Linked DNA regions of Homo sapiens. The protein of the gene in region 1 purifies or fractionates together with the protein of each later gene. This does not show direct contact. Each region holds a gene or a part of one and is shown in the gene's direction. Other genes may lie near its edges.

What was found.
Region 2: the proteins of KLF8 (region 1) and NSUN2 purify together in Homo sapiens (affinity purification with mass spectrometry; one large-scale study listed by BioGRID and IntAct). This does not show direct contact.
Region 3: the proteins of KLF8 (region 1) and HNRNPUL1 purify together in Homo sapiens (affinity purification with mass spectrometry; one large-scale study listed by BioGRID and IntAct). This does not show direct contact.
Region 4: the proteins of KLF8 (region 1) and ZNF516 purify together in Homo sapiens (affinity purification with mass spectrometry; one large-scale study listed by BioGRID and IntAct). This does not show direct contact.
Region 5: the proteins of KLF8 (region 1) and ZNF66 purify together in Homo sapiens (affinity purification with mass spectrometry; one large-scale study listed by BioGRID and IntAct). This does not show direct contact.
Region 6: the proteins of KLF8 (region 1) and YTHDF3 purify together in Homo sapiens (affinity purification with mass spectrometry; one large-scale study listed by BioGRID and IntAct). This does not show direct contact.
Region 7: the proteins of KLF8 (region 1) and GTF2I purify together in Homo sapiens (affinity purification with mass spectrometry; one large-scale study listed by BioGRID and IntAct). This does not show direct contact.

Annotation. Positions count from the first base shown.
Region 1 is NC_000023.11:56,235,213-56,239,449, forward strand, and holds part of KLF8 (Krueppel-like factor 8), read left to right. Parts: intron 1-4,237. UniProt on the Homo sapiens protein: Transcriptional repressor and activator. Binds to CACCC-boxes promoter elements. Also binds the GT-box of cyclin D1 promoter and mediates cell cycle progression at G(1) phase as a downstream target of focal adhesion kinase (FAK).
Region 2 is NC_000005.10:6,605,165-6,609,401, reverse strand, and holds part of NSUN2 (RNA cytosine C(5)-methyltransferase NSUN2), read left to right. Parts: intron 1-2,017; coding exon 2,018-2,202; intron 2,203-2,489; coding exon 2,490-2,582; intron 2,583-3,993; coding exon 3,994-4,129; intron 4,130-4,237. UniProt on the Homo sapiens protein: RNA cytosine C(5)-methyltransferase that methylates cytosine to 5-methylcytosine (m5C) in various RNAs, such as tRNAs, mRNAs and some long non-coding RNAs (lncRNAs).
Region 3 is NC_000019.10:41,277,872-41,282,108, forward strand, and holds part of HNRNPUL1 (heterogeneous nuclear ribonucleoprotein U-like protein 1), read left to right. Parts: intron 1-1,205; coding exon 1,206-1,305; intron 1,306-3,291; coding exon 3,292-3,404; intron 3,405-4,237.
Region 4 is NC_000018.10:76,376,227-76,380,463, reverse strand, and holds part of ZNF516 (zinc finger protein 516), read left to right. Parts: intron 1-160; coding exon 161-1,609; intron 1,610-4,237. UniProt on the Homo sapiens protein: Transcriptional regulator that binds to the promoter and activates the transcription of genes promoting brown adipose tissue (BAT) differentiation.
Region 5 is NC_000019.10:20,807,010-20,810,938, forward strand, and holds the end of ZNF66 (zinc finger protein 66), read left to right. Parts: coding exon 1-313; 3' UTR 314-2,986; downstream 2,987-3,929. UniProt on the Homo sapiens protein: May be involved in transcriptional regulation.
Region 6 is NC_000008.11:63,171,130-63,175,366, forward strand, and holds part of YTHDF3 (YTH domain-containing family protein 3), read left to right. Parts: intron 1-1,523; exon of another isoform or gene 1,524-1,611; coding exon of another isoform or gene 1,612-1,669; intron 1,670-2,521; exon of another isoform or gene 2,522-2,552; intron 2,553-4,201; coding exon 4,202-4,237. UniProt on the Homo sapiens protein: Specifically recognizes and binds N6-methyladenosine (m6A)-containing RNAs, and regulates their stability. M6A is a modification present at internal sites of mRNAs and some non-coding RNAs and plays a role in mRNA stability and processing.
Region 7 is NC_000007.14:74,751,412-74,755,648, forward strand, and holds part of GTF2I (general transcription factor II-I), read left to right. Parts: coding exon 1-5; intron 6-678; coding exon 679-759; intron 760-1,682; coding exon 1,683-1,766; intron 1,767-2,434; coding exon 2,435-2,618; intron 2,619-4,097; coding exon 4,098-4,126; intron 4,127-4,237. UniProt on the Homo sapiens protein: Interacts with the basal transcription machinery by coordinating the formation of a multiprotein complex at the C-FOS promoter, and linking specific signal responsive activator complexes.

The DNA of each region.
Region 1 (4,237 bases):
ATATGATCTTCTAAGATCTAGCTTTACAATGCCATGATTTTGTGAATGAAGGAAAACTTAATTAGGATGATTGACATAGATGATCATCTAGTATGATTACCATCTTATTGTTAAGTAGAGTATGAATAAGGGAATAACATTGTAGTATTGGGCTCATTTGTTTATTCAAAGACAGTGTGAGATCATGTTTGGTATTCTTCCTGATTTTTTTTTTTTTTTTTGACACGGTGTTTCGCCCTTGTTGCCCAGGCTGGAGTGCAATGGCGTGATCTCGGCTTGCCGCAACCTTCGCCTCCCAGGTTCAAGTGATTCTCCTGCCTCAGCCTCCTGAGTAGCTGGGATTACAGGCATGCACCACCATACCTGGCTAATTTTGTATTTTTAGTGGAGACGGGGTTTCTCCATGTTGGTCAGGCTGGTCTCGAACTCCCAACCTCAGGTGATCCATCCACCTCAGCCTCCCAAAGTGCTGGGATTACAGGCATGAGCCACGTGCCCAACCTCTTCCTGATTTTTATATGCTAATGTTTACTATCCTCAACTGAGTTTCATCATTTAGCCTGTTTCCTCATCTCTAAAATGACATGATAATTTGTGATTATAAATAATGTAAGGAAAGCATTGAACTCAGTGCCTGATATCTAATATGTTTCATAAGTTGCGGTCTCATCATTTTTGTTATTTAAAAAAATTTGTTTTATTTAAATGCTGCTGTGTGTTTGCAGAAGTGGAATGTAGATTAGTGGACAGGAAGCTGGATTTAAATATATGAAAGGTGCTAGATGTTCTGTATAATATACTAAAAGATGTTATTTGTGTATTTAGACAAAATAGATGTGATGTGGGCAAACTAAGCTCTAGGATTATTAAGGAGCAATAACCTAACTCAAGAGCCCAATCCAGATATTTCAAATCACTAGCAATTTGACATTTTGTTGTAACCTCACACTCACCATTTCTAATATACAGCCCATCATCACCTCTGGACTCTTCACTCATTCCTCATTCAAGACTCTTCCTTTCACTTCCCTGGTTCTGCAACTTACTATGACCATAGTAATGGTGAACTTATTTAAACTCTGTACTTTAGTTGTCATATCTGTGCATTGGGGATAATAATAGACACTACCTCATAAGGTTGCTGTGAGGAATAAGTGTGTTAATTTTGTAAACACTTAGAAGGCGGCATGAAAGTGAAGCAGTGGGAAAATGTAGCTGTTGTGGTACTCATGTCCCTTTCCCCTCTTCCTCATTTTCTCATTTAATTAGATGCCAATGGCTGTTGTATTTTTTCCCCTTTGTATCTGGTATCTGTTTCTTTATTATTATTCTAACTGCCACCACCTTAATTTAGGCGAGACGTGCAAACAATTAGCCTACAGACCAACTAAAGCTCACACGTGTTTTGTTTTCCCTAAAATTTAAAAACTTTCAACTAAAACATGCATTTTCAATTGGTAATGCATTCCGCCTGGCTCAAAATTCAGTATTTACTAAAGGGTGCATGGTGAAAAAAGTCTCCCTCCTATTCCTGTTCTCTAGCCACCCATTTTGCCTCGCTGGAGGCAACTAATGTTATCTATTTATTAGGAATCTCTCCAGGGATATTTAGTGTATATCAAGCAATGAGTATGTTTGTGTGTGTGTGTGTGTGTGTGTGTGTGTGTGAATAACATTGTAGTATTGGGCTCATTTGTTTACTCAAAGATAATGTGAAATCATGTTTGGTTTTCTATAGATAGATAGATGGATATATATATATATATATATATGGTTCAGTATCTTCTGATTATTCAAAAGAAACTGGAATTCTAGGAATTTAAGTGAAATCTGATTTTGAAATACTGGTTATCAATCAACTTTTAAAAGTGTGGGACTAGGCAACTTGACATACTGACATGAACTGAATTGTGACCCCCCCATCCCCCCCAAAAAAATTCATACATTGAAGACCTAATACCTAAGCTTGTGACTGTATTTGGAGATAGGGCCTTTAGGAAAGAAATTAAGGTTAGATGAGCTCATATTATATATAATACATATATAATATTAGTATATATGTAAGTACCACAACAACTATATTTTCTCACTGCTTACTTCACTTTCATGCCTTCTTCTAAGTGTTTACAAAATTAACACACTTATTCTTCACTGCAACCTTATGAGGTAGTTTCTATTATATATATATGTGTGTGTGTGTGTGTGTTTGTGTGTGTGTGTGTATATATATATCCCCTTCACCTTTTATACACAGATAGTAACACATTCTGCATATTGTTCTCTACAACTTGCTTGTCTACTTAAAAATATACTTTGGAGATATTTTCATATATGCACATTTTTTAAATGCCTCATTCTTTTTTATGACTGCATAGGTTTTTACTATATGCATGAGCCACAAATTTTTAAACAGTTTTCTGTTGATTGATCTTTAAGTTATTTCCAAACTTTTGCAGTGTTATTTGTAATAACAATAAAAACTTTTGTAAGCAGTGCATTAGAGAGCTCAGGCTGCCATAACAAAATACCATTGACTGAGTGGCTTAAACAACAGAAATGTATTTTCTCACAGTTCTGGAGGCTGGGAGTCCATGATCAGGGTGCCAACATGGTCAGATTTTCATGAGGACTCTCTTTCTGACCTGTAGAAGGCCACCTTTTCACTTTGTACTCATGTGATCTTTGTACAAATGGGAGGAGAAAGAGTGAATTCTCTCTGGTGTGTCTTCTTAGAAAGACACTAATCCTATCAGATCAGAACCTCACCTTTATGAGCTCATTTAACCTTAATTTCTTTCCTAAAGGCCCTATCTTCAAATATAGTCACTAGGTTAGGTCTTCTACCTATTAATTTTTTTTTGGAGAGTGGACACAACACAAGTCAGTTCATAGCAGTGTGTCAAATTGCCTAGTCCCACACTTTTAAAAGTTGGTTGATTGCCAATATTTCAAAATCAGATTTCCCTTAAAATTCTAGAATTCTAGGCCGGGCGCAGTGGCTCATGCCTGTAATCCCAGGACTTTGGGAGGCCAAAGCAGGAGGATCACCTGTCAGCAGTTCGAAACCAGCTTGACCAACATGGTAAAACCCCATCTATATTAAAAATACAAAATTAGCCGGGTGTGGTGGTGCATGCCTGTAATCCCAGCTACTCAGGAACCTGAGACAGGAGAATCGATTGGACCTGGGAGGCGGAGGTTGCAGTGAGCCGAGATCACACCATTGCACTCCAGCTTGGGCAACAAGAGTGAAACTCCGTCTCAAAAGAAAACAAAAATTCTTCAATTCCAGTTTCTTTTGACTAATCAGAAGATACTGAACCAGCATTCTCTCTTGGCAATAATTGCCTAGAGTTGATGAGCCTCTCCCTCCCTCCCCTTTAAAACAGTACTTGTATTTTTTGTTCACCACATTACTCATCTGGCCTAGGTGGCCTTAACCTGTCTGACCCCTAGTCTAGATATTGAGATTATGGCACCTATGTAAGCTCTTACCGCAGTACTCATAGAATATTCCAATAGCTTCTAGTTCTACTTTGATTCTTTCTGCCCTCTCTACTCTGAGGACCACTGCAAGGATATATTCCTTAAAACACTTTTAAAAATTATGTTACTCTCCTTCACTCCACAGTCATTTACTGGGTGTCTACAAAGTTGGAAGCATCATGCTAGAAGCTGAGGTGATAGTGGTAAACTTACCACTTTAGGTTAGGTAAACTATCAGTTTAGGTGGGACCCTTGCCTTCATGGAGTATGCAGTTTACTTTTCCTCTCGTCTGGATTTCCTTTCTGTTTCTTCTTGACTGTCGTAGTTCTTCAAAGCCCACCTCAAAGCAAACCATTTATTTGAAATTTTCTCTGACTATTCCATTCTCAGTAATCTCCTCCTCTCCCAATTATTGCTCATAGCCTCAAATCATAATCCAGCAATGCAGCATCTATTATCTTGTAATATTTGATTGCTATTATTTTATGCATAATTGTTTCTCATCACACGGACCTGGGATCTCAAACTTAAATCTCCAGGGCCCAGTAAAATGAGAAAAGCATGCCCTGTCTAAAGGGGACAGCTGTTGATCATCTCCAGCTAATTTTTCCCTTGTGCCAATGTACACTCTGTATTATAAAATCTCTCAGCTTTTTTAGAAAAGCAAGAAATAGGATTTTTTTCTTAAAACATGAAATCTGCATTTGAAAGGTTGTTAGATGTTTCTGTTTTAATCTTTAACATCACTAT
Region 2 (4,237 bases), on another chromosome or scaffold:
CGGCCTTGTCCAGACCTGGCTAGAAAGATGCAGCCCGGCCTGTTTGCTATGGATCTAAACTGCCTGCTGGTTCCTTTCCAAGGCAGGCCAGGAAACAGTGGTGAAGGAGTGTTGCCCTCATCCTAACACGCAGTCCTTTGTAATGCGTGCTGTCTCACCTGTATCACGCCAGCATTATTTATTAGTTCATAAATCAGCCTTCCATGATGAAAGAACCTGGCCTGGAATCAAAGTCTGGAAGTCTGTATTTCTTTAAGATCCATGCTTGAAAATTAGGACAAAAAACGCTTAGCTTTGGAGGAACAAAAAGGAAACAGTTCCGCAAAGAGCTCCAGCCTTTTTCTGGGGCACGGTTTGTGCAGTTTAACGTTGGAACGTACAGCCTCAGACGGGCAAAGGGGGCGACTGCACTTCTGCCGCCACCAGGGTTTTTCTGTCAGGTTAGAAAGTATTTCACTTTGAGGCTAAAAGTCTCACAAGGTATCTTAACGCTGATGGAATGTTATTTTCATGGAATCAGTATAAGAAATTATATTGTAAAGTATTAGATACTTTGCATTCATTCATACTAGGTTTCAGTAGCTTGTGTTTTAGACTTTGCGCTTGTCACATTTTAAGTGGTCAGTGACCACAGGCTTGTGGCTGCCCAGCTGCAGAGCACAGTGCAGTCACAGAGGAGCCTGTCTTAGAGACGCGTGCTTTAGGTTGGCCTGCATTAGGGCTTACATTGATGTTTCTGACGTGTTAATACTTACATAGAAAGGTTTTGACATTTTTTCAATTAGCCCCTTATGTATAGTCTTACTTTTTAGAACAACTTATTGTCATTTTCTCGTTTAAATAATATGAATACTTCTCTCTTTCTGTTACTATGTCAGTTTCTTATTCACTTAGTTCAACAGATCTAGTGCTAGCATGGCCTGTGCTGCTGTTGGTCCTACTGGGAACGCAGGTAGAGTCTCCATGGTCAGGATGCCGTGTTCTGTTGTGGTGCTGAGGCCTGTAAGCACTTGGCTAGAAGTTAGGCCAGGGAAGCTCACACTGACCTTGGTATTTGAAGGTCCCAGAATGAGGTTGTTGAGGTAGAACAGAGATGGGAGAACATGCCCTTGGAGCTGGACTCAACAAGAAGGCCCCTCTGGGGGAAGCTGAGGTTGGACAGGAAGGGCGTGTGCCCTCACTGACTTGCTCACAGGCTTGGGGTTCATCTGTTTTGGTTTTTGCTTTTTTACATTATATTAACATGGAAATAAAAGGTGTTCCCTGGGATGCTCCCGGCTTCTCTGCTCAGTAGCTTTGTGGCTCTGAGTAAAATGAACTTGCCTGTGTTGAAATATCCTAATTTTTAAACTTACTTCATAGGGACTGAGGAATTACGACTTTTATCAATTTTGTGACCTGTTAAAATGTTAAAAAGGACATGTATTTTTTAAAGATCTTTAAGTAAAACATTTTGCTCATTCCCAAAGCCAAATTTAAATTATACCATGGCCCTAATTCAGAAGTTCATTCTTTGGCAGGTGTTTCCTTGGTGCCTGGGGCACTCTCTCTTTCTCCCAGTTCCTGTGGCAGTTTGTCCAGGTGCCCAAGAACAATTCATACCCTCCTTTCTCGTTATTTATATACTTGTCTTTTTGCCCCTGCCGGGTATTTTAGAAATCGTGCTTGGTGCACTTTGTGTCCTTCAGTGTGCCTTACCCAGAGCAGATGCACGATAAGCATTTTTACACGAGAACAAGCTGGTGGTGTAGGCCTCTGCTAAGGAACAGGCTGTATATGCTCTTTGTGGGATTAAGGTAGAATCAGCTTTAACTCCAAAGAAACTGTCCATGAATTTTGTTTATAATAGCAAGTAGATTTAAAATGACACTTTAAAAAAATTCTGTTGTCTTTCTCTACATATAATGCTGTAGAAAAATATAACTGATGGATTTTGTGAACGTGGTATTTTTAACTTTTCGTAGCAGCACAAAGAATGCTCCTCTTTGTGTGTCAATGAAATTGTTCTTTATGACAGCTTCAGGGTAAATCTGCAGAGACCAGAGAAAGCACACAGCTGAGCCCTGCAGATCTCACAGAAGGGAAACCCACAGATCCCTCTAAGCTGGAAAGTCCGTCATTCACAGGAACTGGTGACACAGAAATAGCTCATGCAACTGAGGATTTAGAGAATAATGGCAGTAAGAAAGATGGCGTGTGTGGGTAAGAAAAGTGGTTATGTCTTGATCTAATACGCTGGTGTCTTCACAGTCCTTTTGGATTAAATGGGATCCCAGAGCCACTTCTTGGTCGGTTTGAGGGGGCAGTACATGTGTGGTATCAGGCACATGCAGTGTGAGGGCTGGACTCTGTGGAAGCCGGAAGGTTTCAACATCTGCCGCAAACCGTTCCATGTTGCACAGAACTGACAGAAAGGAAGAATGTGCTTTTGGTATTGAAGGTTACCACACATTACAGATTGATTTGTCTCATCCTGATTCCCTTTTTAGTCCTCCTCCATCAAAGAAAATGAAGTTATTTGGATTTAAAGAAGATCCATTTGTATTTATTCCTGAAGATGACCCATTATTTCCACCTATTGAGTAAGGATTCAGCCTTTTTAATTATTCATTTAAAGAAATTTACTATAGAGTATCAAATGTACAACTGATCACATGTAACCATTGTTTTGTATGTAGTTCTGTCTAGCTTTTTTTTTTTTTTTAACCTTTTTAACTGCATATTAGAGCAGGATGAAACTTTAGAGGTTACTCAATCTTTTAATTTAAGGAGAAAGTAAACTTTTACTTTGTGAACATGATAGATAAAAAAAAACTGGACCGGGCGCGGTGGCTCACGGCTGTAATCCCAGCACTTTGGGAGGCCGAGACGGGCGGAGCACGAGGTCAGGAGATTGAGACCATCCTGGCTGACACGGTGAAACCCCGTCTCTACTAAAAATACAAAAAAAATTAGCCGGGCGTGGTGGCGGGCACCTGTAGTCCCAGCTACTCTGGAGGCTGAGGCAGGAGAATGGCGTGAACCTGGGAGGTGGAGCTTGCAGTGAGCCGAGATCGCGCCGCTGCACTCCAGCCTGGGCGACAGAGCGAGACTCCGTCTCAAAAAAAACAAAAGAAAACTGGACTGTGATTATGAATCTAAATTAGTTGTGATCCTGAACCTAAATTACTCAATTGAGTATATAGACGAGTAGCCAAGGTTGTCTAGTTCAGTTTCTGTAGAAGAAATGAAGAGCAGCATGGGTGAGGGCTAATTAGGGATGACATAGACAGAATATAGAGGAAAAGGGTTTAGGACAAGTCTGACATTCATCTGTTTCTTATTCATTGAATTTTAGAATCTATTTACCAGGGCGGTCACTTACTGTCTTTTTTAATAACTGGTCCTTTGCATACATTTGTAAAAGTCTATTAAAAAATAAGTCTCAGCCGGGCACATCCCAGCACTTGGGGAGGCTGAGGCAGGCAGATCATGAGGTTAGGAGTTTGAGACCAGTCTGACCAATGTGGTGAAACCCCGTCTTTACTAAAAATACAAAAAAAAATTAGGTGTGGTGGCGTGCACCTATAATCACAGCTACTCAGGCTGAGGCAGGAGAACCGCTTCAACCCGGGAGGCAGAGGTTGCAGTGAGCTGAGACTGCGCCACTGCACTCCAGCTTGGAAGACAGAGCAAGACTCCATATCAAAAAAAAAAAAAAAGTCTCAAAAGTAGTGTTATCAGGTCATTATCATTGGAGTAGCGGCTGAGGGAGAGAAGCTGCACTTGTTAATTTAGGTTTCTGATGGAGTTGTGCCCCAAATAAATGTTACGTGGAGGTTTCAGGTGGAAGTGGATGAAGTTTAGAAGCTGGAGTCCAGAGCAGAGCCCAGTGCCCTTGAACCACACTGCAGTTTTGGGGATTGAATTCTGGAGGAGGAGAATAAGATGTTTAGAAACAGTCTACCAGATTTTGAACTCATTGTGGATAAACAACAATGTTGTTATGTACAGGAAATTTTATGCTTTGGATCCTTCATTCCCAAGGATGAATTTGTTAACTCGGACTACAGAAGGGAAGAAAAGGCAGCTCTACATGGTTTCTAAGGAGTTGCGGAATGTGCTGCTGAATAACAGTGAGAAGATGAAGGTGCCAGCCGCACAGACGCTGAGTGCTGTGTGATGCGGGATGCGTGTGGCTTTTCACAGCGGCTTAGATTTCATTTGGAGCAGACCGTGACATCTGCCCTCCCCACCT
Region 3 (4,237 bases), on another chromosome or scaffold:
TGTCTGAAAAGCCAGTGAGGCCACAGGTAGATACGGATATTCGGCAGTCTAGTCTTTTAATACGAAATTAAGTCAGAAGGCTTTTTTTTTTTTTTTAACTTAATACTGTATCTTGGACATTTTTCCATAGCAGTACATTAGCCCAATGTACTGCTTTGCTCCTTGTTTTTTGTTTGTTTGATTGTTTGTTTTGTTTGTTTTGTTTTGTTGACGGAGTTTCACTTGTTACCCAAGCTAGAATACAGTGGCGCAATCTCTGCTTACTGCAACGTCTCCCTCCTGGGTTCAAGCGATTCTCCTGCCTCAGCCTCCCAAGTAGCTGGGATTACAGGTGCATGACGCCACGCATGCCTAATTTTTTGTATTTTTAGTAGAGACGGGGTTTCATGATGTTGGCCAGGCTGGTCTCGAACTCCTGACCTCAGGTGATCCACCCACCTTGGCCTCCCAAAGTGCTGGGATTACAGGCTTGAGCCACCGTGCCCGGCCTACTTTGCTCTTTTTAACTGTTGCATCATATTTTGTGGCATGGATATACCATAATCAGTGCTTTATTGATATTTTTTCTGATGTTAAAATATATATATATATATATATGTGCACATATATACATCCAATGCTGCACAGAATGTTGCATATACAAATACAGTCACACATACGTAGACATACTTGTCCACATATTAGTGTATCTATAGGATGCTGAGTTATAGAGCATGTGCATTTATGGGGTTTTGTTGTTTTTTTCTTTTAATGTTTTTGTAAAGATGGGGTCTTGCTATGTTGGCCAGGCTGGTTCCTAACTCCTGGCCTCAAGCCATCCTCCTGCCTTGGCCTCCCAAAGTGTTGGGATTACAGGTGTGAGTCACCATCCCCAGCCATTTACAGTTTTGATAGAGACTTCTAGATTGCCCTCTAAAGACACTGTAACAGTTTATCTTTCTACTAGATGTTACAAGAGTCTCTTAAACTAAAACATAACCGTATTTTGAAATGCCTGTCTCTGTGGCCCTGTACTCTACTGATCCCTTTGGAGGCCCTGGCTTCGATTCGGTTCAACAGGCTTTTCAGAGCTGCTTAAACGCTTCTTCTCCAGCAAGAAAAGCCATTGCTATTTTTTAATGCCTGATATGCTTCCCTCCTATATTGGCTCATAACCTACGGCCTCCAGAGAAGCAACCCTGAGCCCTTTTGTCCTCTTTCCTCAGATCAATGAGGAAATCTCCGTGAAGCACCTTCCGTCTACAGAGCCTGACCCCCACGTGGTCCGTATCGGCTGGTCCCTGGACTCCTGCAGCACCCAGCTAGGTAAGGAGGGGTCAGCTATGCAGTCCAGAGAATAGAGTGACTGTCCCTACCCTTGGATTTTCAAGGCTCCTAAGCTTCCTTTTCCAGCGTCAGACTTAGAATAGAACTAGGCTGAAGTGGAACAGGTACAAGGATTAGGTATATGCCACTGTCTCTGTCATGCTGTATTCAACTGAGAGGACTATGGTCATGAAACAACTTTTCTGTGAAGAATCAATTCTTATCCTTCATCTTTTAGGAGAGGGTCCAAAATTCTCTTTAGGAATCTATTCCCTTTCTGTAAAAAGGATCAGTGTCTCCTGCCCTTAAACCAAGCTGCTGATAAGTTCCCAAGCTCCATTAAGTTCTGTCTGTATTTTCTGTCCGGAGCCTAACCTAGAGGAAAAAGGGGAGCAGAGACCAGTGAGGCCAGGGCTAGTTGGGAGAGGGGCAGGGGCTGCCTATTGAAAGGTTTTGAATTTTGCGGGTCCCCAGGCTTCAATGACCTTCTGGTCCCAAGTGACTGATTATTCTGACCAATGCTGACACCTCCTGCCTTCCGTTTATGATCATACAAACGTTCCAATTATGAAAATAATATGTGTTGCGTATAAGAATTCAGGCCATACAGAAAGGGAAAAATGAAAATCCTTCCTAAACCTGTGAGAGAAACTAACCAATGTTAACATTCCATTTGTAGTCTTCTGGACATTTATTTTTTTGTACATCTTTAAACTGGATCACACTAGGACTACTTTGTATAGCCTTGTTTTAATGTATGATGGGCATATTTTTGTAAATAACTGCAGCTTTTTGACTACTGCATAATTTTCCATTTTATAGTTGCATTATTTAACAAGTCCCCTTCTGTAGCTCATTTAAACTTATTGCAAATTTTTGCTGTTTTAACACTTGAGCCATTATCCTGGTCCATAATTGCCTGACCACTTAAGACTAATCTTTAAAAATAGATGATATTCTCACTCACAAGTGTTTGTTTAAAAAATATGTTCACATGGACTTAGAGAGTGGAATAATAGATAATGGAGACTCAGAAGTGTTAGGGGGTAACAAGGTGGAGGAGGATGAGAAATTGGTTAATGGGTACGATGTACATTTTTTAGGTGATGAACACCCTAAAAGCTTGACCACTATGCAATCTGTGCATGTAACAGAATTGCACATGTACCCCATAAATTGGTACCTCCTCAAAAAGGTAGATATGTTAGCACCAAAAAAAAAAAGTATACAGTTTTCATTTCCATATGTGTTAGCACTTTTTATTTAAGACTCATAAGTCATCTCATCTTATCTCTGTCTCCGTTTTGAGATGTAGGTGGTGGCAGTTGATAGGGATGGGGAAACAGCCCAGGAGGTCAAGCACCATATCCAGGGTCACATAGCTGGTTTGTAGCAGAACGAGCCCTGGCATTCATGCTTGTCGGCCCCTGCTTTTCTAACAGCATACTCTTTGGGTTCTGCCCGGAATCTCTAACTCAGGTGTCAGCCAGAGCCCTTGGGATCTCTCAGTCATATCACTTCAGCACCCAGTTCTGTAGCCTGAGGAAATCTAGTACCTTTCCCAGGGGTCAGTCCTCATGGTCTCCAGGAGCAAAATCCAGCCCCTTCACTGATTTCTACCACAAGTAGACTGGACTGAATATTGGGTGTCACAAGGAAGGGTTGCATCTCAGCATACAGCCATTCTCCTCCATCCCAACTCCTGTCTTCCTTCCTCCCTTTCTTTTCAAATTCTCCCCTCTGTGCAGAGTTATTCAGTTGAGCTCCTACTCCCAGACTGGACAATGAAACCCATCAAGCCCTCCAAGTTCTACATCATTAAGGGCTTCCTTTCACCCTTCCCCACCCCTATTTTAAAAAGGCATCTGATTAATAAAACTAGTAAAGAAAATGATTTTTTTCTTCAAAAATAAAAGTATGTGGCAGCCATTGAGGCTGTTATGACCATCGCAGGTTTAACCTGCCTTTGCCTATTTCTTCCGTCAGGCGAAGAGCCTTTCTCCTATGGCTATGGAGGCACTGGGAAGAAGTCCACCAATAGCCGGTTTGAAAACTACGGAGACAAGTTTGCAGAGAACGATGTGATTGGCTGCTTTGCGGTGAGTGCTAGCAGCCTGTGGGAGTTGGCAGAACCAGATGTTGGGCTACAGACTTCTTTTTCAGGATACCTCTATCCATTGTCTGCCCCATATCCAGCCACTCTCGCCATACTTCTTTGTCTCTGCTTGACAGACTGGAATGTTTACTGTCATTTTGTGGGAAATTCTGTCATTCCATCTCCTCTGGTCTTGTGTGCAAAGTTTTCAGATGACACCCTGAAGAGGTTTGGGGACTTCAGGTGTGCATAGCCTTCCTCCGTTCCTAGGTACCAGAGTAACATTTTCTAAACAAACCTAGGAATTTCTTATCTTTCATTGCTAGGAAATAGCCTGTCTGCTCCTGAAGGCAGTGGTATTGGCTCTTGCCCCATGTTGGCATCATCTTATCCCAAAACTTCTCCCTTTCTTCATCTCACATTGGTTGAGCCAGGCTTCCTACAATGCACTGCCTTCTGGAAGAGTAGAGATGATGCAAAACAGAACAGCTGTTGCTGCCATACTTCAGTCTTTGAGAACAGTGACCAGCAGTCACCTTGCTGTGCAGTATGGCTGTCAGCTCTGGGCTGGACTCCCTGGACCCAGTTATGTTCTTCCATTCAAGCCCTGGGCAATTTACCCTTCTTGTTTTTCAGTTCCCTCTAAATGAGAATCTTTGCACCTACCTCAGAATTTTGTGTGGAGTCATTAAGTTAATCCATTAAAAGCACTTATAATAATGCCTGACACACAGTAAGTGCTCAGTAAATACCACTTAATACTGTTAACATTAGGAGTTATAAGAGATGTTTGTAAAATGTGCCGTAAGGCCCCAGAGGAAGTGACCACCTGGATGG
Region 4 (4,237 bases), on another chromosome or scaffold:
GTGGCTCCTCAGGGGTTTTCTAAGAGCCACCCAGACTCAAGGGTGGCTTCTCCCGCTGAAGACAGATGGCTTGGAACATGCTGTAGCTGTACGCACCGTGTGTCTTGCTGTGTTCTGATGAGAAATGGTAACTTCCCGTTTCATATTTTGCCTCCTCTAGGGGGACAGCCGCGCCGCTGCTGCTTTTCCGAAGAGGTGACTTCGACCGAGCTCTCCAGTGGAGACCAGAGTCACAAGATGGGAGATAACGCCTCGGAAAGAGACACCGGCGAGTCCAAGGCAGGGATCGCAGCTTCTGTGTCCATACTTGAAAACAGTAGCAGAGAGACTTCTAGAAGGCAAGAGCAGCACAGATTTTCTATGGACTTAAAGATGCCAGCATTTCACCCCAAGCAGGAGGTGCCCGTCCCTGGTGATGGTGTGGAGTTCCCTTCCAGTACGGGAGCGGAGGGCCAGACGGGTCACCCTGCAGAAAAGCTGTCCGATTTGCACAACAAGGAACACTCTGGGGGAGGGAAGCGGGCGCTGGCCCCAGACCTCATGCCGCTAGATTTAAGTGCGAGGTCGACGCGGGATGACCCCAGCAATAAGGAGACGGCCTCCTCCCTGCAGGCGGCTTTAGTCGTTCACCCGTGTCCTTACTGCAGCCACAAGACCTACTACCCCGAGGTCCTGTGGATGCACAAACGCATCTGGCACCGCGTCAGCTGCAACTCCGTGGCTCCCCCGTGGATTCAGCCCAATGGTTACAAAAGCATCAGAAGCAATTTGGTTTTCCTTTCCCGGAGCGGACGCACGGGCCCCCCGCCTGCCCTCGGTGGCAAAGAATGCCAGCCTTTGCTCCTTGCTCGGTTCACCCGCACTCAGGTGCCAGGGGGGATGCCGGGGTCCAAAAGTGGCTCTTCTCCCCTGGGAGTGGTCACAAAAGCCGCTAGCATGCCTAAGAATAAGGAGAGCCATTCCGGAGGTCCCTGCGCTCTGTGGGCGCCCGGCCCTGACGGGTATCGACAGACCAAACCTTGTCACGGCCAGGAGCCACATGGCGCGGCCACACAGGGGCCCCTGGCCAAGCCCAGGCAGGAGGCTAGCTCCAAACCGGTGCCTGCCCCGGGTGGCGGGGGCTTCAGCAGGAGCGCCACCCCTACGCCCACCGTCATCGCCCGGGCTGGCGCGCAGCCCTCGGCCAATAGCAAGCCTGTGGAGAAGTTTGGGGTCCCCCCAGCGGGGGCTGGCTTTGCCCCCACAAATAAGCACAGTGCCCCGGACTCCCTGAAAGCCAAATTCAGTGCTCAGCCTCAGGGTCCACCTCCTGCAAAGGGCGAAGGGGGCGCTCCTCCTCTACCTCCCCGCGAGCCCCCCTCGAAGGCAGCCCAGGAGCTGAGGACTCTGGCCACCTGTGCTGCGGGGTCCAGGGGCGACGCGGCCTTGCAGGCCCAGCCCGGCGTGGCTGGGGCGCCCCCCGTCCTACACTCCATCAAACAGGAGCCGGTGGCCGAGGGGCATGAGAAGCGCCTGGACATCCTCAACATCTTTAAGACGTACATTCCAAAGGACTTTGCGACCCTCTACCAGGGATGGGGTGTCAGCGGCCCTGGGTTGGAGCACAGAGGTAAGATGTGCGGGCCCTCTCTTCCCCAGGCCACATGTGACCCCCAGAACCACCCCCGGAGGGCCAGGGCTGCTGCGCACCTGCCTGTCCATGTCCCTGAGGACAGAGCCAGCCGGCCCCATCCCACTGCTGAGCTGAGAGCTGCTCCCTTGCCCTGGCCGAGGAGCACAGCAGATGGGAACAGCTCTCCCAGGCTCCACATTCTGCCCTGCCGGGGAATGCCTGCCTGGGGTTGGTGGCCCTCTGCACGTTGGCCCTGGGAGGAGGTCGCAAGCCCTGCACGGCTTCCTTCCTGCTGAGAGGACGTTTCCTCCACACCGACATTCCGCAGGAGCAGGCCGACGTGATTGCACTTCACGTGTTTGTCATTTTAAACAGAATCCGTAGATGTTCATTGTCCTGTCTCTCAAAAGACAAGAATATTCATTTAATGTATTAAGTTTTATTTTTATTCATCTGTAATTAAAAAAACACCTAATTAGTCCTCTAATATTAGTAAGCAAAGCTTTGCAGAGGATCGATGTACCATATAAAGTCTGGAGAATGGGATTTGTGCAAAAATTCCTGAAAAAAATACTTGGAAAAGGTTATCTTCCCTTCTCCCTCTGCCTTAGTATTGCTATCTGATAGTAACACTGAGAAGCAGTTGCTAGCTTTCCTCCTGCTCCTCCGGCACGCGCACTGCATGCGGTGCCCCGTTCTGGAACATAATTGAAGGTCACTCTCACTTAACGTCCAGAACACAAACCTAAGTTCTGTTAAAAATCAAAACAAAACAGAGTCTCTCAGTTCATTGCCTGGGAAGTCCTAACCGTTCTTCGATAGAATTGTTTGTCGTGGCCAGGCATGGTGGCTCAACGCCTGTAATCCATGCACTTTGGGAGGCCGAGGTGGGCGGATCACGACGTCAGGAGTTCAAGACCAGCCTGGTCAATATAGTGAGAGACACCATCTCTACTAAAAACACAAAAATTAGCCAGGCATGGTGGGGTGCACCTGTAATCCCAGCTACTTGGGAGGCTGAGGCAGGAGAATTGCTTGAACCCAGGAGGCGGAGGTTGCAGTGAGTAGAGATCGTGCCACTGCACTCCAGCCTGGGTGACAGAGTGAGACTCCATCTCAAAAAAAAAAAAAAAAAATAACGTTGTAAGCCTGTGGTTTCTTAAAGTGGTTACCATTAGAACATCTGAGATCCAGGGCTGCAAACTCCAGGCAGCTGGCAGGACTGTCAGGGGCATGGTTCTGGGTCTGGGAGATATCAGCAGACAGCCTCCCCAGATCCACCGTGGGACAGTGTCCCAGTGGGTGCTGGGGTCACCTGCTGAGCTCCTGGCTTAGGCCGGGGTTTCAGAGCCTGCCTAGATCCATGGCCTGGCAGGGCTGTCTTGGCATGAGGGATGCCCACCCAAGGTGTTTTCCAGTAGGAGACATCACAGGCCTGCTGCCCCTCTTACAGATTTGCTGGCAAAGGCCTTACTCCAGCCAACCTTGTTACATTCCTGCTTTGAAGAGCCCGCTGAGCACTTGTGAACTTTTTAGGATGAGGCCGTAGGCCCGGACACCCGAGGGTCTCGTCATTCACGTTGGCTTGAGGTGTGACTCAGGAGTGGCGTCCCTGAGGCGTGGTCTTAGATCCTCATCTTCTCCCCGCCCATGTGCTCTGGGTGGACGGTGTAACCTGAGGAGGCTGTCGTGGGTGGGAGGCGCGGCGCAGTGCCATGTGGATTGATGGTTTGACTTTTTCCACGTTCAGTTACAGTGAGCGAGTTCCCTCAGCGTCAGCAGGGTTTCTCAGTCACGTAGATTATTTGCTGCTAAGTGGAAAACAAGTTGGTTGGTGGCCTTTTGATGTGATGCCAGCCTCACTTCTGGAGATGTGGGGTTTCTTGGAACCCAAAGCAGAGAAGGCTGAGTGGTGAGGTCTGTGCTGTTGTGGATGCTGGGTGTTCCCAGCTGCACCTGGCCCGCTGTGTCCTTCCCCCGGTGGCCGCCTCCCAGCAGAGCAAGGGGAGTTTGACGCCCACTTGATCCACCGGACTCATAGTTTTAATTAATCATGCCCTCCAGCCTGCGTGCACCCTAGGTTCTAAACAACCTGCCAGCTCACACCTGGAAAGTGCCGTCCCCCGTTTTTAAAGGCTTTTGAGCTGCCCTGTGGGTGGCGTAGTTGCTGTTTCTAAGAAAGTAGAAGTGAGTTTTAAGGTCAGGTTTTGAAATTTTAGATGATAGAATTTGAAGTCCAAAATAGTCTGAAGTATTTTCCCTTTTCTTACAGACATTTTAAAAAATAAATGGTTCTAAGGTCTTTTTTTTTTTTTTTTGAAAGAGAGAGGTTAAATATTTATCTTTCATATGTGAAAAATACTAGTCACAAAGTACATGCACTCATCTTGGGTTATTTATTCTTCTAATGTACACATTGAGACATAGTGTGAGTCAGCAAATTTAGGGTTTCTAAGTGTACTGTAAATTGGGTTTCTTAAGGGAAGTGCTCTCACCTTTTTGGTCTTAAAATATACCTGTTAGTAGGTGCATTATTAGGATCCTGGCTTCCCGGGTATAGAGTACCTGAGGTCAGCCTGTTTAGATACTTGGTCAGTGCACCTGAGAAGTGCCGAGCATCTCCAG
Region 5 (3,929 bases), on another chromosome or scaffold:
ACACAAGAAAATTCATACTGGAGAGAAGCCTTACAAATGTGAAGAATGTGGCAAGGCCTTTAAGTGCTCCTCTATTCTTACTACACATAAGAGAATTCATACTGCAGATAAACCCTACAAATGTGAAGAATGTGGCAAAGACTTTAAGTACTCCTCTACCCTTACTAGACATAAGAAAATTCATACTGGAGGGAAACCACACAAGTGCAATAAATGTGGCAAAGCCTTTATTTCATCCTCAAACCTTAGTAGACATGAGATAATTCATATGGGAGGGAATCCCTACAAATGTGAAAATGTGGCAAAGCCTTAGACACTCCTCTACCCTTACTAGACATAAGATAATTCATACTGGAGAGAAACCCTATGAGTTTGATGAATGTGGGAAAGACTTTAACCAGCTATCAACTTTTACTAAATATGAGAATTTATGGAACACAAACACTACAAATATAAAGAATGTGACAAAGCTTTTAGGAAGTTCTCAACCCTTATTACACATAATTCATACTGGATAGAAACCCTACACCTGTGAAGAATGTGGCATAGCCTATAACAATTTTCAATCAATTCTTTTTTTTTTTTTTTGAGATGAAGTTTCATGCTTGTCACCCAAGCTGGAATACAATGTGATGATCTCGGATCACTGAAACCTCTGCCTCCCGGGTTCAAGCCATTTTCCTGCCTCAGCTTGTCTAGTAGATGAGATTATGGGGGGTGGAGCCAAGATGGCTGAATAGGTACAGCTCCTGTCTACAGCTCCCAGCCTGAGCGACGCAGAAGATGGGTGATTTCTGCATTTCCGTCTGATGTACCAGGTTCATCTCACTAGGGAGTGCCAGACAGTGGCTGCAGGACAGTGGGTGCAGTGCACTGTGCATGAGCTGAAGCAGGGCGAGGCATTGCCTCACTCACGAAGCGCAAGGAGTCAGGGAGTTCCCTTTCCTAGTCAAAGAAAGGGGTGACAGATGGCACCTGGAAAATTGGGTTACTCCCACCCTAATACTGCGCAATTCCAATGGGCTTAAAAAATGGCACACCAGATTATATCCTGCAGCTGGCTCAGAGGGTCCTATGCCCATGGAGTCTCACTGATTGCTAGCACAGCAGTCTGAGATCAAACTGCAAGGCAGCAGCGAGGCTGGGGGAGGAGCGCCTGCCATTGCCCAGGCTTGCTTAGGTAAAGCAGCTGGGAAGCTAGAACTGGGTGGAGCCCACCACAGCTCAAGGAGGCCTGCCTGCCTCTGTAGGCTCCACCTCTGGGGTCAGGGCACAGACAAAAAGACAGCAGTAACCTCTGCAGACTTAAACGTCCCTGTCTGACAGCTTTGAAGAGAGTAGTGGTTCTCCCAGCACGCAGCTGGAGATCTGAGAACGGGCAGACTGCCTCCTCAAGTGGGTCTCTGACCCCCGAGCAGCCTAACTGGGAGGCACACCCCAGTAGGGGCAGACTGACACTTCACACGGCTGGGTACTCCTCATATAAAACTTCCAGAGGACCGATCAGGCAGCAGCATTTGTGGTTCATGAAAATCCGCTGTTCTACAGCCACTGATGCTGATACCCAGGCAAACAGCGTCTGGAGTGGACCTCTAGCAAACTCCAACAGACCTGCAGCTGAGGGTCCTGTCTGTTAGAAGGAAAACTAACAAACAGAAAGGACATCCACACCAAAAACCCATCTGTACATCACCATCATCAAAGACCAAAAGTAGATAAAACCACAAAGATGGGGAAAAAACAGAGCAGAAAAACTGGAAAGTCTAAAAAGCAGAGCACCTCTCCTCCTCCAAAGGAACACAGTTCCCCACCAGCAACAGAACAAAGCTGGATGGAGAATGACTTTGATGAGTTGAGAGAAGAAGGCTTCAGACGATCAAACTACTCCGAGCTACAGGAGGAAATTCAAACCAAAGGCAAAGAAGTTAAAAAATTAGACGAATGTATAACTAGAATAACCAATGCAGAGAAATGCTTAAAGGAGCTGATGGAGCTGAAAGCCAAGGATCAAGAACTACGTGAAGAATGCAGAAGCCTCAGGAGCCAATGCGATCAACTGGAAGAAAGGGTATCAGTGATGGAAGATGAAATGAATGAAATGAAGTGAGAAGGGAAGTTTAGAGAAAAAAAATTAAAAAGAAACAAAGTCTCCAAGAAATATGGGACTATGTGAAAAGACCAAATCTACCTCTGATTGGTGTACCTGAAAGTGAGGGGGAGAATGGAACCAACTTGGAAAACACTCTGCAGGATATTATCCAGGAGAACTTCCCCAATCTAGCAAGGCAGGCCAACATTCAGATTCAGGAAATACAGAGAACGCCACAAAGATACTCCTTGAGAAGAGCAACTCCAAGACACATAATTGTCAGATTCACCAAAGTTGAAATGAAGGAAAAAATGTTAAGGGCAGCCAGAGAGAAAGGTCGGGTTACCCACAAAGGGAAGCCCATCAGACTCACAGCTGACCTCTTGGCAGAAACTCTATAAGCCAGAAGAGAGTGGGGGCCAATATTCAACATTCTTAAAGAAAAGAATTTTCAACCCAGAATTTCATATCCAGCCAAACTAAGCTTCATAAGTGAAGGAGAAATAAAATACTTTACAGACAAGCAAATGCTGAGAGATTTTGTCACCACCAGGCCTGCCCTAAAAGAGCTCCTGAAGGAAGCACTAAACATGGAAAGGAACAACTGATACCAGCCGCTGCAAAATCATGCCAAAATGTAAAGACCATCGAGACTAGGAAGAAACTGCATGAACTAACGAGCAAAATAACCAGCTAACATCATAATGACAGCATCAAATTCTCACATAACAATATTAGCTTTAAATGTAAATGGGCTAAATGCTCCAATTAAAAGACACAGACAGGCAAATTGGATAAATAGTCAAGACCCATCAGGGTGCTGTATTCAGGAAACCCATCTCACGTGCAGAGACACACATAGGCTCAAAATAAAAGGATGGAGGAAGATCTACGAAGCAAATGGAAAACAAACAAAAAAAGAGGCAGGGGTTGCAATCCTAGTCTCTGATAAAACAGAATTTAAACCAACAAAGATCAAAAGAGACAAGGCCATTATATAATGGTAAATGGATCAATTCAACAAGAAGAGATAACTATCCTAAATATATATGCACCCAATACAGGAGCACCCAGATTCATAAAGCAAGTCCTGAGTGACTTACAAAGAGACTTACACTCCCACACAATAATAATGGGAGACTTAAACACCCCACTGTCAACATTAGATCAATGAGACAGAAAGTTAACAAGGATATCCAGGAATTGAACACAGCTCTGCACCAAGCGGACCTAATAGACATCTACAGAACTCTCCACCCCAAATTAACAGAATATACATTTTTTTCAGCACCACACCACACCTATTCCAAAATTGACCACATAGTTGGAAGTAAAGCACTCCTCAGCAAATGTAAAGGAACAAAAATTATAACAAACTGTCTCTCAGACCACAGTGCAATCAAACTAGAACTCAGGATTAAGAAACTCACTCAAAACCGCTCAACTACTTGGAAACTGAACAACCTGCTCCTGAATGACTACTGGGTACATAACGAAATGAAGGCAGGAATAAAGATGTTCTTTGAAACCCATGAGAACAAAGACACAACATACCAGAATCTCTGGGACACATTCAAAGCAGTGTGTAGAGGGAAATTTATAGCACTAAATGCCCACAAGAGAAAGCAGGAAAGATCCAAAATTAACACCCTAACATCACAATTAAAAGAACTAGAATTGCAAGAGCAAACACAGTCAAAAACTAGCAGAAGGCAAGAAATAACTAAAATCAGCAGAACTCAAGGAAATAGAGACACAAAAAAACCTTCAAAAAATTAATGTATCCAGGAGCTGGTTTTTTGAAAGGATCAACAAAATTGATAGACCGCTAGCAAGACTA
Region 6 (4,237 bases), on another chromosome or scaffold:
GTTGTTCAGTTTAATAATTTCATCTAAGGTTAGAATAATGGATTGGGATTCCTTGGAGTCCTGAGTTCTAATACTGCCTTTGGCTACTGACTTGCCAAGTGAGCTTGAAAACATTTTACCTGTCTGTCAGAATCTCCCCTCTATAAAATAAAAATAACTCTAGTCATAATTCCCATAATTCCTATAGTATGTTGTTAGGATTCTTGTAATTACAGTAGTTCACTGCTCTAGTAGCAATTATATTTGCTGGATTTCTTTTCACTTTCCTCACTTAATCTATTTTTAAGGTGCAGGAAGACTCCTTTGCATGGAGCCTTGGCAGGAGGGGAAAAATGCTACTGGCCTGAAAGTATTGCTAATTATTTAAGTTTCTTAAAAATGGCAGATGCTACAAGTGCACAAATAACAAATATACGTTACTTGTATTTTTATGACTGCAGGGAGAATTACAAGGCAAAGGCAACACTACCAGTGAACCTGATATAAGTAGCTATGTGTGTATTTGAGAAAAGCTTTTCTGCCTTAGCTTGTTCCCAGCTCGTAAAATTGTTTTACAATTCTGTTTACTTTCATGAAGTTATTTTTCTTGAACTGCAACCTCAGTATTCTAAATATGAGTAATCTTGAATTCTGAACTTAGCAAGCTTATGAAAAATAGTATGTCCTTGAGAAGTTGGTGTCAGTTAAAGTTTTGAACACGTAATCCTTTTCAGTCAACTTACTATAATTTCAGAGATCCTGTTTCTTTTCTGAATTGTCTTTAGTTGACAGCTTTAGCCTAACACCTAGTTTTAGTGTCTTTGATTTTCTATATATCCTTAATTACTTAATTCATTACAGAAGCCAAAAGGAATTCTAAATAATTGTCTTTGATATGGCAAAAATGTTTTTTGTAGAATAAGTAATAATTCAAGGTTTACTTGTTTTATAAGTTTGAATTCTTTTTTAATTAAGTCTGTCCCTGTGTTAAATATCAGAACTCTTTATTATCCTTGGCAAGAGTAGTACCAAAGGATAGTAGAAATTTAAGGATAATTATTTGCCTATTGGTTCATAATTTAACACTTCGTATTTTATTTTTTTATTAAGTAGAATTTTTGCTTATTGGAATAAAGGTGTGCAGTACTTTTATTTGGGAGTACTATGGTTGGAAGTGTCAGATGCCATACTTACAGTCTTAGGCCTTACTGCCTCCTTTCTCCTCTAAGTTTATAAATAGCAAATTCATGGAACAGGATTTATCTTTTTCCTCCTCTCCGCTCTCTTCCAACGGAGAGACGTATGCATTGTTTTATACAACTGTAATTTAAAATAATTAGGTTAAATTTGGCTAAGTTTTAATTTTCGAAAAGTAGTGGAAAATGCCTTATATTTTGGCAATATTCTGTTGTATTCTCTCCTCGTCCTCCCGAGAAATGATTTCAAAGCACTTTACTATCATTATTTTAGGCTTCATTTTATCAATCCTCACAACATCCTTGTAAGGAGATAGCGGGTATATGGTATTGTCGCTGTTTTTGTAGGTGGGGAAACATGATGCACAGATCTGTTGACTTTCCTAACTTGATGTAGTCAGGACCAGAGCAAAGAATCACCTGGCTCCTAAGGCCCATGTTCTATCTTGATTTGACTCTGTTTCATAGAGCAGAGGAAACAGGCGAAGAATCATGTAAGTCATCTGTTCTTTTTACCCCTGAAGAAATTTTACAGACTATGGAACTAGCTTGGATTTCATTTCTATTTAATGGTTTTCAGACTCCAAGACATTAGCTTGTCATTAAGTAAATATTCAAAAACGAAAGTCTTTAAGATAGTTTTCTTTAAGATACACTTCCAAAACTTAAGGGCTAGTTTAATGCAAATTGCTTCTCGGTATATGTGAAGTACTTTTAATTAAACATTTTTTAAAGTAGATTGACTTTTTGTACTATATTTTAAGACTTTATAGACATTTATGCATCATTTAAAAATGACCGTAGACTGTATTTATAATAGTATATGGGTTGTTCTCAGGCCTAGCCTCTTAGAAGAGAAATAATAGAACAAAAAAAATAAGAATAACAGGATTATATTTATATATATATACAGATAAATTTTAAGTAAGTACTTTTTCCTTTTTTTTTTTTTAAATAGAGGCAGAGTCTCACTCTGTACCCCAGGCTGGAGTGCAGTGGCATAATCATAGCTCAGTGTAACCTGGAATGCCTTGGCTCAAGTGATCCTCCTTAGACTCCTGAGTAACTAGGACTATAGGCACATGCCACCACTCCTGGCTAATTTCTAAACATTTTTCGTAAAGGTGGGATCTTGCTGTGTTGCCCAGGCTGGTCTTGAGCTCCTGGCCTGGCACTTTTTGTATTTGTATGAACTAGATTTTCGAGAACCTAGTGGATATGAGAGATAGTTAGTCATAATTTTTAAGTTGTTAGCTGTTTCAAATACTGACTAACATGTATGAGTGTAATAGTGAAGAATTTTTTTTCAAGAAGTAATAGACCATGCATACTTACCTTTGATTTAGGAGCAGTAAAGCCAGTGTCAGAGGAGAACAGGTATGTCAGAATCTCTTGGACTGAAATGAATAACCCAGCCTTATAATGGCACTAGAAGTAACCTAAGGCACCCTCTTTATTTTGGTTTCTAGTGGCTATTACATATTTAAATTCCATGGAGCATATTTAGCTCAATCCTAGTTCTGATGCAGTCCTTATCAGACATAGTTAAATTATGTTAGTGGAGCCAGGATCAAGTTGACCTTCAGGTTGCTTCTTGTGGCCTCTGAGGGGCAGTGTGGTGTAGTAAGAAGTCTACTTTGAATGCTTTACACAGTAACATCATATCTTTGATCTTTGCCACTCATTGGATGGCAAAGATTTAAGGGATTTTGTATATCTTTGCTCCCAAGCCACTGTTAACTCATAATATTACATTTTAGGTGCTCTACACTCATGGGAAAATTTAAGGATAATAAAAATGTTATATTACAGAGGAATACGCAATTTAAACCCGTCACCCTCCTAACTTCATAAAATTTGGTGATGTTGTACCTTTGAGCAGTAAATCTTTAGATACTGAGTTCTTTTTGTTTCTAATTTGTAGACATCCATCGGAAACTTTCAACTTTATCTTCACTAGTATAGAATAGTATATTTACATAGTGCCACCTCATCAAGTATTAGCTTAGTAACACTTCTGTTTAAATGGTTCTAAAGTCATATTAGTCCTATTTGGATCTTGTAATATTTAATGTGATTACATTTAAGATTATTGAACACTGTCATTTAATAATCAGATGAGATGAGGTAGGTACTATTCATACATAACCTTCTGAAACAGCGAACAGTCAAAGGTTAGAGAGTTTAAATCCCTAACTGGAGATCATCTCCTCAGTGCTGGACTTGAGATTCAAATTCGGGACCTTACTTCTGAGTCTGCTCAAAAGCACTCTGAAACAGCATCCAGAGAATAACAACTTTAGAGTGTTTATGGAGATGACCTTTGAACAAAATTATTCTCTGACTTGTTTCTCATGTATTGCAAGGATAATTATGGCTATCTTTTGTGTCTTAATTTTGTTTGTAGTTTCATGTGAAAGTCTTCATTCTGGGGGGCTTAGAATTAAAGCCCTCTTTATTTAGATATTTCATAATTATAAGTCTATTCATTGTGATATTGTTTCAAGTTAATTTTAGCCTAAACTTTACTGGAGACATTTAAGACATTTACTATAACAAATTAGATCGAAAATAGTTATTTCATTCTTTATTATACTAAATAATTTAGAGATTTAAACAAAGGTAGAGAACATTCAGAAATCTTTTTTATTGCCTACAACGCTACTTGAAATAGTTATTTTACATTCAAATATAGCATTAGGGAACTCTTTCCAACATTCTTATGTAACAATTTACTCACTACAGTGTTGAGATTGGGATATTTACTTAAAGTTTTTGGTAAGGGGAAGTGTATATATGGCTTGTGTTTATGTAATCTTGGGCTTATGTATCAAAAGACTTTTAAGTTTTTGTGGCACATGAATATTTGTATCTAAAATAGTTTATCCTTAAGAGGGTTCTTAAAAATAACTCAGTATTATTTTTTCTGATTACTTTTTTTGGCTTGAAAAATATTAAAAACATTAGGTTGTGCTGCGAGTTTCATAAAGATAACTACAACACTTCTAATACAAACATTTTTTTAGTTTCAGTACAAAACGGTTCGATTCATCAAAAAGATG
Region 7 (4,237 bases), on another chromosome or scaffold:
TCCCAGTGAGTGTATTTTCTGTATTTTCATTGCTATAGAACACACGCTCTTAGGCATGCATTGTGCAGCTGTGGTTTACAAACATTGTTTAAAGAATAGCCATTGAGGCCAGGCATGGTGGTTCACGCCTGTAATCCCAGCACTTTGGGAGGCTGAGGTGGGTGGATCACCTGAGGTCAGGAGTTTGAGACCAGCCTGGCCAACACGGCAAAACCCTGTCTCTACTAAAAATATAAAAAATTAGCCAGGCGTGGTGGCAGGCGCCTATAATCCCAGCTACTCAGGAGGCTGAGACAGCAGAATCACTTGAACCCGGGAGGCGGAAGTTGCAGTGAGCCGAGATCGCACCACTGCACTCCAGCCTGGACAACAGAGCAAGACTCATCTCAAAAAGAAAAAAGAAAACCCATTCAAAGTTGTAGTTCAGGCTATTTCACAATTTTTAGTTATTTAATAATTGGGTGGCTCTGTGAGTGTGTGATGATCTCCTAAGTACCCCCAGGAAGAGAAAAACAGTGAAAGGCAGCCCTTCAGGGGGCATCATGTCTTCTTGAAATGATCTACCATGGAAAGAAAGAACCTTGAACAGGACTGAGATAAAACAGTCTCAGACAGCATGATTATTAGAGATGTTGACCGTGTTTTCTACAAATTCTGATTTTAAATGTATATTTTCAGGAAAAATAAATTCATCACCCAATGTTAATACTACTGCATCAGGTGTTGAAGACCTTAACATCATTCAGGTGACAATTCCAGGTATGAGTTCTCTGCTTCCATCAGAGTTTTTGGGGGTCTCTTCAGGGCCTCTTGGACTTTCCCAACTAGAGAGGTTTGCTCAGCTCATCCGGGGACTCGGATACATTACACGTTGCCTGGTGCTCCTCCCAGACTCCTACAGCAGTTGCCTTCCAAATACAGTTGCTCTCCAAACAGCAACGGCAAGTTTTGGCACTTGGCATGAGCTAAATCCTGTTAACCACCCAAATGGCTAGTCTGTTCCTTAAAAAAAGTCTATATGAGACCGGGCACGGTGGCTCACGCCTGTAATCCCAGCACTTTGGGAGGCTGAGGCAGGAGGATCGCTTGAGGTCAGGAATTCAAAACCAGCCTAGCCAACGTGGTGAAACCCTGACTCTACTAAACATACAAGAAAAATTAGCCAGGCCTGGTTGTGTGTGGCTGTAATCCCAGCTACTTGGGAGGCTGAGGCAGGAGAAGTGCTTGAACCCGGGAGGTGGAGGTCGCAGTGAGCCGAGATGGGGCCAGTGCACTCCAGCCTTGGTGACAGAGCCATACTCCATCTGGGAAAAAAAAAAAATCTATATAAAACAGCAGGTAAAGGTCTTTATAACAAGAATAAATTTGTAGCATTTTTAGTTAGGCATTATTTTAAACAATTTCAAATTTAATTAGCTCAAAGTGCTCAAATACTTAAATCATTAAAAAATGGAAAATGCTTGAAAACATTACACAGAGCTCCTAAAAATTGGGATTAAAAGTGCATCATTGAGCAGCGGCTTGTACCTGTAGTCTCGGCTACTTGGGAGGCTTAGGCAGGAGGATCGCTTGAGCCCAAGAGTTCAAGGCCAGTCTGGGCAACATCGTGAGATACCATCTCTTTACCATAAAAAAAAAAAAAAGCAGTATTTAAGTTTTGGGTTTTCTCTGAACTGTTTCAGATGATGATAATGAAAGACTCTCGAAAGTTGAAAAAGCTAGACAGCTAAGAGAACAAGTGAATGACCTCTTTAGTCGGAAATTTGGTAAGTTTTGCATTTGCAAAGTACAGTTGCTATAAGCAAAGAGATTTGTTTTAATAAGATCTTTTCAGCAGATGATGGTTGGATGGTTGTAATCCTATATAAAAGGAGTTAAAATTTAAAAGTGAGTTGTTTGTGCTAAATTTATTTAATAAGATACCATTAGTGTTACACTATTGATTGTCAGTATGAAAGTTAATGAATTTAAGGTTCACCATCTGGCAGTGTGGCTCACACTTGTAATCCCAGCACTTTGGGAGCCCGAGGCAGGTGGATCAGTTGAGGCCAGGAGTTCGAGACCAGCCTGGCCAACATAGTGAAACCCTGTCTCTACTAAAAAATTCAAAAAATTAGCCGGGTATGGTGGTGCACACCTGTAATCCCAGCTACTCAGGAGGCTGTGGCACGAGAATTGCTTGAACCTGGGAGGCAGAGATTGCAGTGAGCTGAGATCAAGCCACCACACTCCAACCTGGGTGACAGAGCAAGACTCTGTCTCAAAAAAAAAAAAAATTTAAGGTTCATATTTAAATTTGTTTGAAGTGTACAAAGACCTTAGTTAACAGCAGAGACAGTCTTTAAAATAAATGTTGATCTTGTGCTTTTGACAGGCTGTTTAAGGCGGTGGGTTAATCTGTGCTGTTGTGCTGTTTGTCTCACTGTCCCTGTAGGTGAAGCTATTGGTATGGGTTTTCCTGTGAAAGTTCCCTACAGGAAAATCACAATTAACCCTGGCTGTGTGGTAGTTGATGGCATGCCCCCGGGGGTGTCCTTCAAAGCCCCCAGCTACCTGGAAATCAGCTCCATGAGAAGGATCTTAGACTCTGCCGAGTTTATCAAATTCACGGTCATTAGGTAAGTGAGAGTTTCCTGCTTAGTCACAGGAGCGAATCTGGAGCTCATGAGGCTGACTCTTCTAAAATGCAGCCACAGGTAGTCATCGAATCCGGCTTCCTATGCTGTGCAATCAACAAATCAAAATAACTTGTGTCATCATTAGAATGTCAGATGTGCTTCTACGAACTAAGCTGACTCTTTTAATTCTTTGGCAAAGGGTTGGCAAACTAGGACTGTTTGCCAAATTCAGGCTGCCTCCTATTTTTAGAGTCTTCCTGAAACACAGCTACACCCGTATTATCCATGGCTGCTTTCCTGTCACAGTGAGTAAGTAGCTGGGACTGAGAAGGCATGGCCTCCAAAGTCTAAAATATTTACTCTCTAGCACTTTGTAGAAAAACCTTAGCTAGGCACAGTGGCTAACGCCTGTAATCCCAGCATTTTGGGAGGCCAAGGCAGGCAGATCACCTGAGGTCAGGAGTTCCAGACCAGCCTGGCCAACATGGTGAAATCCCATCTCTACAAAAATAAAACAGTTAGCTGGGCATGATGGCGGGTGCCTGTAATCCCAGCTACTCGGGAGGCTGAGGCAGGATAGTCGCTTGAACCCAGGAGGTGGAGGTTGCAATGAGCCAAGATCATGCCACTGCACTCCAGCCTGGACGACAGAGTGAGACTCCATCACAAGAAAAAAAGAACTTTGTCAACCTCTGTCTTAGGGCGCCTTGTCACAGGCTTCGGGTCAGACGGATTCAACCTTGCATCAGCCATTTGTTAGCCAGGTCACTCTGTTCTTTGTCTGTAAATGAGATTGATCGTTGTTCCCACTGAGAGTGTCAGCTCCTTCCCGTAGAGCAGGCATGATGATTGTACTCACCTCTGACACCATTGTGAGTGCCACATTCCTTCCCACGTCCTTGTCACTGTAAGAGATGCCCACCTGAGCACCAACCCCAGGTTATCTTCCCCTTTGTCTTCCAGCCCCCCAGAAACAGCTACGACTCAACCTACCCAATCATTTCATCATCAGATTGCCACTGTCTCTAGTTCAGGTCTCTTGGAACTGGCACTCAGAAATCTCATAATAAATCCTCTTGAGGCTTCTCATACACTCGTCTTCTTCCAATCTTCTTTCCCTCAAAATCTCATATTTTGGTTCCACTTCACCCACCGTCATTCTCCATATCACTCCCAGGAGTTAGGCAAAAAGCCCCTTCCGTTCTTCCGTATGTTAAACTTAGAATCACTCTGTTCCCTGCTCTGCGTTTCTATTTTTTGTTTTTCCTCCATTTACTAGTAGCTTAACACTTTCTAACAGTGTTCTTATTATTGATACGTATCTATCTCTTCCATAAGCTTATAAGGTCACGGATAATACTTCTCATTGTAGTACGTAAATGACGTGGGCTAGATATGAGTTGAATAAACAGTTATACCTGTAAATTCTTACAGAGTGAAAATAAATTGTTATACTTTACAATTTGTTTCTCTCTTTAGACCATTTCCAGGACTTGTGATTAATAACCGTGAGTATTTTGTGAAGTGTTTTGTTTTTGTTTTTTCCTGGGGTCTGACGTGTGTGCGTGTGAGTGTGTATACATGCTTAACGTATATCACGTTACTTCACCTATGTCAGT